Regions from separate parts of the Homo sapiens genome. Here region 1 is linked to region 2. Evidence: fine-mapped QTL for protein levels in blood plasma. A gene starts in region 2. The other region holds a variant in brackets. All regions are shown on one strand. Distances are between the middles of the regions.

The links. PIP is the posterior inclusion probability: the model's chance that the variant is causal. Protein levels are from antibody-based Olink assays in UK Biobank. Linkage for the fine-mapping came from a reference panel and not from the study's own genotypes, which makes the PIPs less certain.
Region 1: its variant is fine-mapped to the plasma level of the PDGFRA protein (UK Biobank, PIP above 0.99). The variant lies in the coding sequence of PDGFRA. If it changes the protein, the assay may bind it differently, which can mimic a change of level.

Annotation. Positions count from the first base shown.
Region 1 is chr4:54,270,502-54,273,511 of GRCh38, reverse strand. It overlaps PDGFRA (platelet derived growth factor receptor alpha), which reads right to left. Exons shown (of 23, transcript NM_006206.6): 8 at 2,764-2,879; 9 at 992-1,118. Among named protein-coding and RNA genes, the nearest start is that of PDGFRA, 43 kb to the right of the region's middle. The variant A/G (reference allele first, on the strand shown) is at 1,031.
Region 2 is chr4:54,226,620-54,232,133 of GRCh38, reverse strand. It overlaps PDGFRA (platelet derived growth factor receptor alpha), which reads right to left and starts at 2,841. Exons shown (of 23, transcript NM_006206.6): 1 at 2,719-2,841. RefSeq lists enhancers at 3,543-4,368, 5,197-5,514 and a silencer at 5,491-5,514.

The DNA.
Region 1 (3,010 bases), 43 kb before region 2:
AGGGCCAATTCCTGAGAGTCATGGCAATGAGTGGAGCCACGGGAACACTCTAAGATGGCAAGGAGTTGGGACCTTGTCTGCATTTCGGGGCAATACACACTGATTTATTTTACATGCAGATGAACATTAAAACTTGTCTGCATGTGCTGAAGAGGGAATAACTCACACATGAACAACTGAAAGCTAAGTGTTTACATAGCAGGCAGAGATAATCAAGTTTAATAAAATATGACTACCATTCCCCAATCTTGAACCTATGAGCAAACTGAACAGTTCAACTTCAACCATATTTAATGATCTCAATCTCCCACCCCTTCAAAAAGGCCTGGAGCCCTCCCTTCTCAACACTCACACTGGGAAGAGCCCCTAGGGTGTCACTAGGGTTGCGATGATCCTCAGATTGAGTTATAAGACCTAGAATCCTGCTCCACACTGGAATCTACTAGAAACCCCAGTCAACATCCAAGTCTGTTCTTAGCCCTAGAAGTTAAGATGAGGAGTCTCTGTCTAGAGGAAGAAACAACTGAGGCTTCTGAACACAACCAGTTACCATGGATGAAGTGTAAACACATTGCTCATGTGCCCATTTAAGAAGGCTGAGGACTCGGGGGAGGGAGGAGGGAATGGCGAATTAACCCACCAAACAGCAGGTGGGCAGATAAGGGACTAAGCAGTCACATTTATGTTTACATGCAGTCCGACTACCAAACAAAGTTCACCAAATAAGATATGTGAGCCAGGGTAGTAAAAATCTTCTTAGAACAGTGGTTCTTAAAATTCACTCTTGTTTTTAGATTGGAGACATTTTGAAGGTCTAATGAGAGCCCTGGACCTTCTTCTCACAGCTATTCATGACAAAAGATACACACCCTGAAGCTATCACACCCAAAACCCTATCTTATAGTCAATAAGTAAAATGTATTTGACATCATTTGTGTCAAGGGAGAAATATTCTGACCACGAAAGAAGAAGACACATCTGTTTTCCATACTTCTTAATATCTTTGCATATCATCCACTCAATATCAGGA[A/G]GCGGCGTGCCTTCAGCTGTGCACCTCACCGTCTGTCCCCCAGTTGAGCCATGGTGATCATCGACCAAGTCCAGAATGGATGAAGGAACTGCAAGAGGCAGAAAGAAGTCAGAATGGAATAGCTCGTGTCCCAGAACATATGAGACTACAAAGTGGAATATGAGTTCACAACTCATCTACATGGCATTCAAAACACTCCGGAGGGGCTGAAACCAGTTGTACAAGTAACACTCCAGTTTAGACAGACCCACATGGTTAGCAGCATTTTCACAGTTTTGGTGTTTTGAGATTTATCCCTGTGATGTTTTTAACCTGGAGTGAAGAAAGTGAAAAGTCCATGGTTGTGATGCCTCACACATGTAGCCCCAGCTACTTGGGAGGCTGAGGTGGAAGAGAAACACTTGAGCCCAGGAGTTTGAGGCAAGCCTGGGCAACATGGTGAGAAGAAAAATGGGAAGGGAAGGGAAGGGGAGGGGAGGGGGGGAGGGGGGAGGGGAGGGGGAGGGGAGGGGGGAGGGGAGGGGAGAATGAAGGAAGGAAGGAAGGAGAGAAAGGAAAAGAGAGAGTGAGGGAAGAGGGAAGGAAGGAAGAAAGGAAAGAAGGAAGGAAGGAAAAGGGAGAACAAGGGAGGGAGGGAGGGAGGAAAAGGAAGGAAGGAAGGAGAGAAAGGCAAAGAAAAGAGAGAGTGAGGGAGGGAGGAAGGAAGGAAGGAAGGAGAGAAAGGAAAAGAAAAGAGTGAGTGAGGAAGGAAGGAAGGAAAGAAAAAGAGAAAGGAAAGGAAAAGAGAGAACAAAGGAGGGAGGGAAGAAGGAAGCAAGGAAGGAAGGAAGGAGAGAAAGGAAAAAGGGAAGAGGGAAGGAAGGAGAGAAAGGAAAGGAAAAGAGATAACAAGGGAGGGAGAGAAGAAGGAAGGAAGGAAGGAAGGGAGGGAGGGAAAGAGAGAGAGAAAGTCCCTTGGTTATTTGGCTTGAAAGGCAAGGAGGTTCTTAAAATTATATTATAGCTTAGGATTCAACTAATGGATTCAGCTAAAGTATAATCTAAAGCAGCATTTACCAAAATGCATCTGTGGTATGTTATTAGGTTTTAAAGATTCTTTTCTAAATCTGTGGTCAAATAAATTAGATATACGGTGTTGCTTGTATCACAGGTTTTACTGTGAGGATCACATGAGCGCACCTCAGACAGCACCTGGCTCATGGCTGGGACTCTGGATAGGTGCTGAGCCTGAATGTAAACAGACTTGGGCACTCCCTTCTGGTAAGGACCACTGTACAATGTCTATAAGGAAAACTTGTAGCAAAACTCTCCAGAACAATCTAAGGTCATCTGCTTCTCTCTTCTCAGATTGAGAAGCAGGTGCTAAGTAAGCTGGTGGAGGCCAGGTGCAGTGGCTCACACCTGTAATCCCAGTACTTTGAGAGGCCAAGGTGGGAAGATAGCTTGAACCCAGGAGACCAGCCTGAGCAACATGGCAAGACTCCATCTCTACAAAAATAAAGCTAGCTGGTGGAGCCTAGGGATTCCTCGCCTACTCTAGAGTAACCCAGAACCTCCCAGAAATACCTGAATTCATGAGTCCAGCAGAGGTATTCCCGATATGTGACATATGCAGACACTGCTTCTCCCCTAAGTGCTGCTTTTCTTCCATGACCGGGGAGAAAAGTGCCAGGCTTTCCTTGGAAGACACTCATCTACAGAGCTAGCATTATCTTTATACTCCCTTTACATACCTTGAGTTAACAGTTCAAAAGTATAGCTCTTCACAGCATCTTCATTTTGAGCTACAATAGTATAATGGCCACTGTCTTCTTCCTTAGCACGGATCAGCTTTAATTTGCTTCGATACCTTTTAAAAAAAGGATTTTGTTTCAACAAGCAGTAGCTAAGTAAGTTCCAATTGTTTAAACAATTGTACTCTTCAATTTAAGTTTTATTTTTACTGTAAAAAGTAAAGTCATCTTTTTTTCTTGTCCATAT
Region 2 (5,514 bases):
AATTGTCACTTTTCCACCAGCAACGTATAACCTGGTCGCAGCTCCCCGGAGGTCAAAGGGAGTACTTCCCTGTGGGGTCTGCAGGAAGGCGCTGGCCACCACGTCCCCAAAACGCGTCCCGCCGCTGCGCGCCGCCCACGGTCCGTCCCCAGGAGGCACAAAATGGGCCCGCCTCGGCGCCAGACGTGTTTGCAGCTGGAAAGCCCGGCCCAATGCCCCTCCCCCTGCATCCCTCCTCAGTCCGCGTCCCGAGAGGAAACTGGCCCAGGGGCGCAGAGCTGGGAGCCTGGGATCTCCTTCAAGTCCTTCTCGATCTAAGGATTTAAACAAGAGCCAGGGCACCGGGGGCTAACGACGGGTTCATTCTTGGCTTCCCCTCACTCTTGTGAACGAGGTCCAGCTGCACTTGGGTCAACCCAAAACTGCAAGCTCCGAAGCAGGGCCTGACCAGGGCGTCAAAGCGAGCCTGGTCGGCCTTGCGCCTGTCGGGGAGTCGAGGCAGGGCCTCCTCATCTTGAGGGTTGTGGAAAGGAGGAGGCCGAGGAGAAAGGGAGAAGAGGGGATGCAATTCAGCAGTGCCGGGGTCCAGGTTGACCAGATTAGGGGTCGGGGATGGGACAGCGCGGCGGCTGGGGAGGTGCGCACGCCCGGAGAGCCCCTTCCTCCCCTCCTGTGGCTCCGGGGATGTTTGTCCGGTGAGATGCACTGCGGAGGACTGTCGTGCGTTTGCCCTGGATGCTCCCTGCTCCAAAAATCTGTCTAGTTCTTGTCAGGAGCGACCGCGGCGAGGCGAGTCGGTCCAAAACATTGAGCAATTTGGCCTCGGAGCCAAAAAGCCATTTCCCACACCGCCCAGCCCGCGGCTTTTCGGACGCGGGGCGGTAGGGACCTGATATGGGCCCCATCCATGCTTGCCTCCCACCCAGGAAGATGGAGTGAGTGGCAAGTTCTTCCAGGCACTCCTTGCGCACATCCTGAGGTCTTAGCACAATTCGGGGAGCGAAGTGCGGGACCGGCGCTCTGGCTGCGGGAGGGATGCACAACGCACAGCCTGCCAGGCCAGCAAGTCCTTCCCGACCAAGACGCGAGGCCAGGCCATCGGCAGCTCTCGCACACCTGGCCCGGCCCAGGCTCCTGGCTCCCTCTGGCAACGTACTCGGGTTGGGCCACACTCGTCGCTCCGACCTGGCCGACACCCTCCCGGAATAGAACAGCTGATCCCACATATTCAATGCCAAATGGACGCCGCCCGCTCCCTGGGCGCAGCCGGGCGGAGTTAATTTCGTGTGTAAATCTGGTTTCCATGGGGGTAGACAGCAGAGGAAGGAGAAGTACGCACAGACGGCTCTGAAGCCGGCAGGGAGAGGAATGGAAAAAAGGCCAACTAGAGAGGACCGAGCAGCGCTGGGCGAGCTCAGACGGCAAGTGCCACGCACCCCCGCGCGGAGAAGGGTGCCGGGTAGGGGGTGTCCAGGGCTCGGGTGCCCGGAGGGAGAATATGGTTTACCTCCCACCTTTCTGTCTTACCTGCAAACAAGTTTCCCCAGTTCCAAGTCGTCCCTAACTTCCTCACAAGAAGTTCGGCACCTTCCTGGAGACCTTTCCTCTCTTCCTGCCTGCGGCCAGAACTGAGCGAAAGCAGAGCCCCCGGGCAATGCAGAAATGATTCCACCGAGGAGGGGGCGCGGGAAGACAGGCGGGGGCGGGGGCCACGGAGCACAATGAGGGCCCCTTGGTGTGCGGTTCGAAATTCCTCAAATCCCAGTTGCTGGAATGCGAGGCGACGACGACTTCTTCACTCAGGGCCAAATGTGTTTGTCATTATTCCAGACCGCCCGCCCGCGCCGCCGCTGTCGCCCCCGCGCTAGGGCGTGCAACCCGAGCACACTGCCCGGCAGGCACCCGCTCTCCCTGGCACCTCACTGACCCAACAAACCGCTCCAGAGCGCCCCAAACCCTTGCCCACGCCCGCGCGCCTCTGCTTGTCCCGCAGCCGCCTCACCGCCGCGCCAAATCTGGCCCCGACTCTCTCCCAGAGCAGCGCCGTCCAGTAATCACGCGCATTCGGCCGGCTCCCTGTGCTGTAGGCCAACACCGAGGTCCGGTCTCCAGCCGAGCCCAGCCCGCCTCCTGCGCCCCGCAACCCCTTCGCGCGCCCCCCTCCACGCTCCCCTCCACGCTCCCCTCTCCCCACCTCCCCCTGGTCCCCCAGCCGCGCTCCACACCATGGGCTGCAGCGCTGTCCCGCCAAACCGCAGGCGAGGAATGAAAACACTCATTTAAAACCTGTCGCCTTCCAGGACCCACTGCCAAGAAGAGGGCAAACACCTCTGCCTCCACCCCCAGTTCCTTGGTGTTCGGCCCAGTATTCACGAACACCACCCCCACTCCCAAAAGAAACCTCAAAAATGTAAGCCTAAACAATTTCTTTGGGAGGCCATAGGGTTGTTAGAAAAACATTGTTTTTAAAAATAGGTCTGGAAAATGTGTGTTTAAAAAAAATACCTAGACTTTCTAACTCTATGGTTATCTCCCACCCGTCCCCAAGTGAAGTTTATTCCGAAAAAAAAAAATTACTCTCTGGACACACAACTGGAATCCAGCTCCTTTTTTTTTTTCTTGTCGCCCAAAGTTTGAAGTTACTTCGCTTTCTCCAGTCCCAGAGTCTGATCAGGGACTTCCCTTATAAACAAAAAATCATTTTTTCTTTTCCCTTACCTTCTCCTCCGATGTTATTCCGCAATGAATGTCCCACACATGGAGTAAAGAGCGTGCCCACGGCCTCCAATGATCTCTTGCAGTCTCCTCCTCTGTTTCTCTCCCTGTAGCTCCAACAGTAATGGGCTCAAAAACCGCGTTTTGTAATTGATTCAATGTTATAGTCCATCCTTCTAAAACTAATCATTTGCTCTAAGTAAATAGCTGTCAGGAAATAAGCCCCCCCTCAACCTTGGTCTCTTCAAAATAAAAGTTTCTCTCAAACTCCCTGCGCTCCGAATCTCCCAGTGTCCAGATTGCGCCTTCGCTTTTTGCTCTTACGCAATCAGGGGGTCCAGTCCCAACCCCCAGACTTCGACAACAACTGGGGGGCGGGGAGAAGCAGACCAGATGGGATGGGGGGTGGTGGAAGGGGGAGGTGTTGGTGCTCTGCCGGGAAAGAGGTTTTGTGAAACTACAAACAGCCCATCATTTCCAGAATGAGTTTGCCTCCCCATTTTGGGGTTATTTTCTTAGACTGCTATAGTTTTGTATTCTCTTTGAAAAGAAGAAAAGGAACATACAAAATTGCATTTAATACCCAGAGAGAATATAAATCTAGAATCAAGAAATGTCCCTTCTACAAACTCGGCCCAACGAGAAATAGGGCCCTCGGGAGAAATCTCCAAGCGGTTGCGCCGTTTTGAACTAGGGGTCTTTTAGGGGAAGGGCTATATAGTTGCTAGTTATTTAATAGGATTGGGCAAACTGTTGAGTCCAATATGACAATGATGGGTTTTTGTTTTGTGTGGTGTGTGTGTGTGTACAAGACTGGGTGGTCTGAAATACGGTACAAAGAAAAGAGGGTCTGTGTAGGTTTGGAACGTTCTCCGATAGAACGACCTTTACTCCCTTGAAGTCACTTATCTGGTCGTGCCTTTGTTTTCGGGGTTATCTGGGCGAGGTTGCCCTGGCTTCTATCTCGCATACAAAAAAAGCTCAAGCTTGGGCGTTTGAGGAATCGTACCACCGCCTCCGCGTCGTGGGGGAGGATGCCTTTTGATTCTCCCTCCGTTCCCTCCCGCCGCGTGGGTCGAACCCTACGAATTCCTTGGAATTGACAGCTGAGCCCCAAACCCTGCGCCCAAGGCGAGAGGCCAGTGTCGGGAGGAAACGATCCTGCCGGCGAGGGAAAGGGGGCGCTGATGCTCCAGGAACCAGACCTGGGCAGAGTGGGGCTTCCCAGCGACAGCGGGGGAGGGGAGCGCGTTCACCTTCATCGCTCTCTGATTTTTGAATTCTCCTGTTGGGGTTGGGGGTCATCCTTCATCCTTCTCCCTCAACCCCACCCCAACACACGCACTCTGAAAATGGCCAAAGTGGCCAGGTTGGGACTGGCATGTCCAACAGCCGTCTCCTCCTTCACCAGGAGGGTGGACACAGTGCAGTGGACAGGGGAGAGTCACAGAGAAGTACTCCAACGGGCGCGGTGCTGTGCCTAACCAGGACAGGATCTTGGGATGTCAGCCTCGAAAACAGGGCGCCTGGGGCTGCGCTGGGGGTCCCATTGCCGCAGTTCTTCTACGCGACCCGCTCTCGTGCATCTTCAGCTTGGGTGACTGCACCGCTCGCTATTACTTCCACATGTCCCTTCAGGAAATCATTGAAGGCAAATATATGAACAGCCCCTTGTTCGGAATGCTAACAGGATACCGTAATGTTTGTAGAAAATGAGCGGGAACAAACGATCCCCCCAAAAATCAGAGTGCGGAATAAAAGGCAAAAGCGGGTGCTGGGCCACATGCTGTTAAGTTGAGAACCGGGTTTTTAGGCTAGTTGCCCCAGAGGGTAGGAGGCGAGACAGACAGCCTACCCAGAGGGGCTGCTTTGCTTCGGCGACACTGTTAGTCCGGTCAAGCCAGGGTCTTCCGTCCGCAGGGCCCCAGCGCTCTCCGCCCACAAATGGTAACTTCACAGTTCATTTCAGAGCCGTTTAATGGGGCCCGAGAAGCAGTCCGGGCGGGAGTGTCTCCAGGCAGCGACTCCTCGGGAGTTTAAAGCAGAAAGCAATGGATGAGCAAGCGAGCACCCAGTTGTCCTTCTGGTAGTAATTACCTGCCTAATTTGAATGATGCCTTTGTTATGATCATTAACAAACATTTGCTAAAGGTTTCCATGTGTGACATTCTGGAAGGTTTAAAGGCCTGAGGAGCTGACTCCAGGGATAGTGCCCCGGTGGGGGGTGGCGCAAGAAAGCAAATGGTTGGGGGAAAATTTTGCGGAGAGACTGTGCAAAGAAGAGAGGTCAACATCTGCCTCCTCTGCAAAAGCAAAATAAACCCAGTGGTCAGGAGCAACCTCCGGACAGGAGGCCCTCGAACCGAGGCGGTTGGTTCCTTAAACCGAGTCCTGCCCCCACAGCCCCCGCCCCTACCACTGCTCATAGGCGGGTTTGAATCCTGTTTTCCGCCTTCTAAGGCTGGTCCGAGGCTGGTTCGGGAGAAGTCGGGTCTGCGCCCGGCAGTCAGTCCGGGGCGTCGGGGGAAGGTGGGGCTAGTTCTTGCCGCGCTCTCCCAGTGTCGTTCTAAGATCCTTCGAGATCGGTCCCACGACGCCCCGGGTCCTGGGTGGTCCCGGAGCCGCAGGGGGCTAGAAACCTTGCCCTCCTGAGGCGGGCTGCGGGTCTTTTCTCCCCTTCTTGTGCTTCTCACTGGGCACCGTGTGGGGGGTGGGGGGAGGGGACCAGGCCACCATATGTACCCGGAGGAGAGGAGCGACATGCACTGGCCTGGGCAGCTCTGCGCAGATCTCAACCCG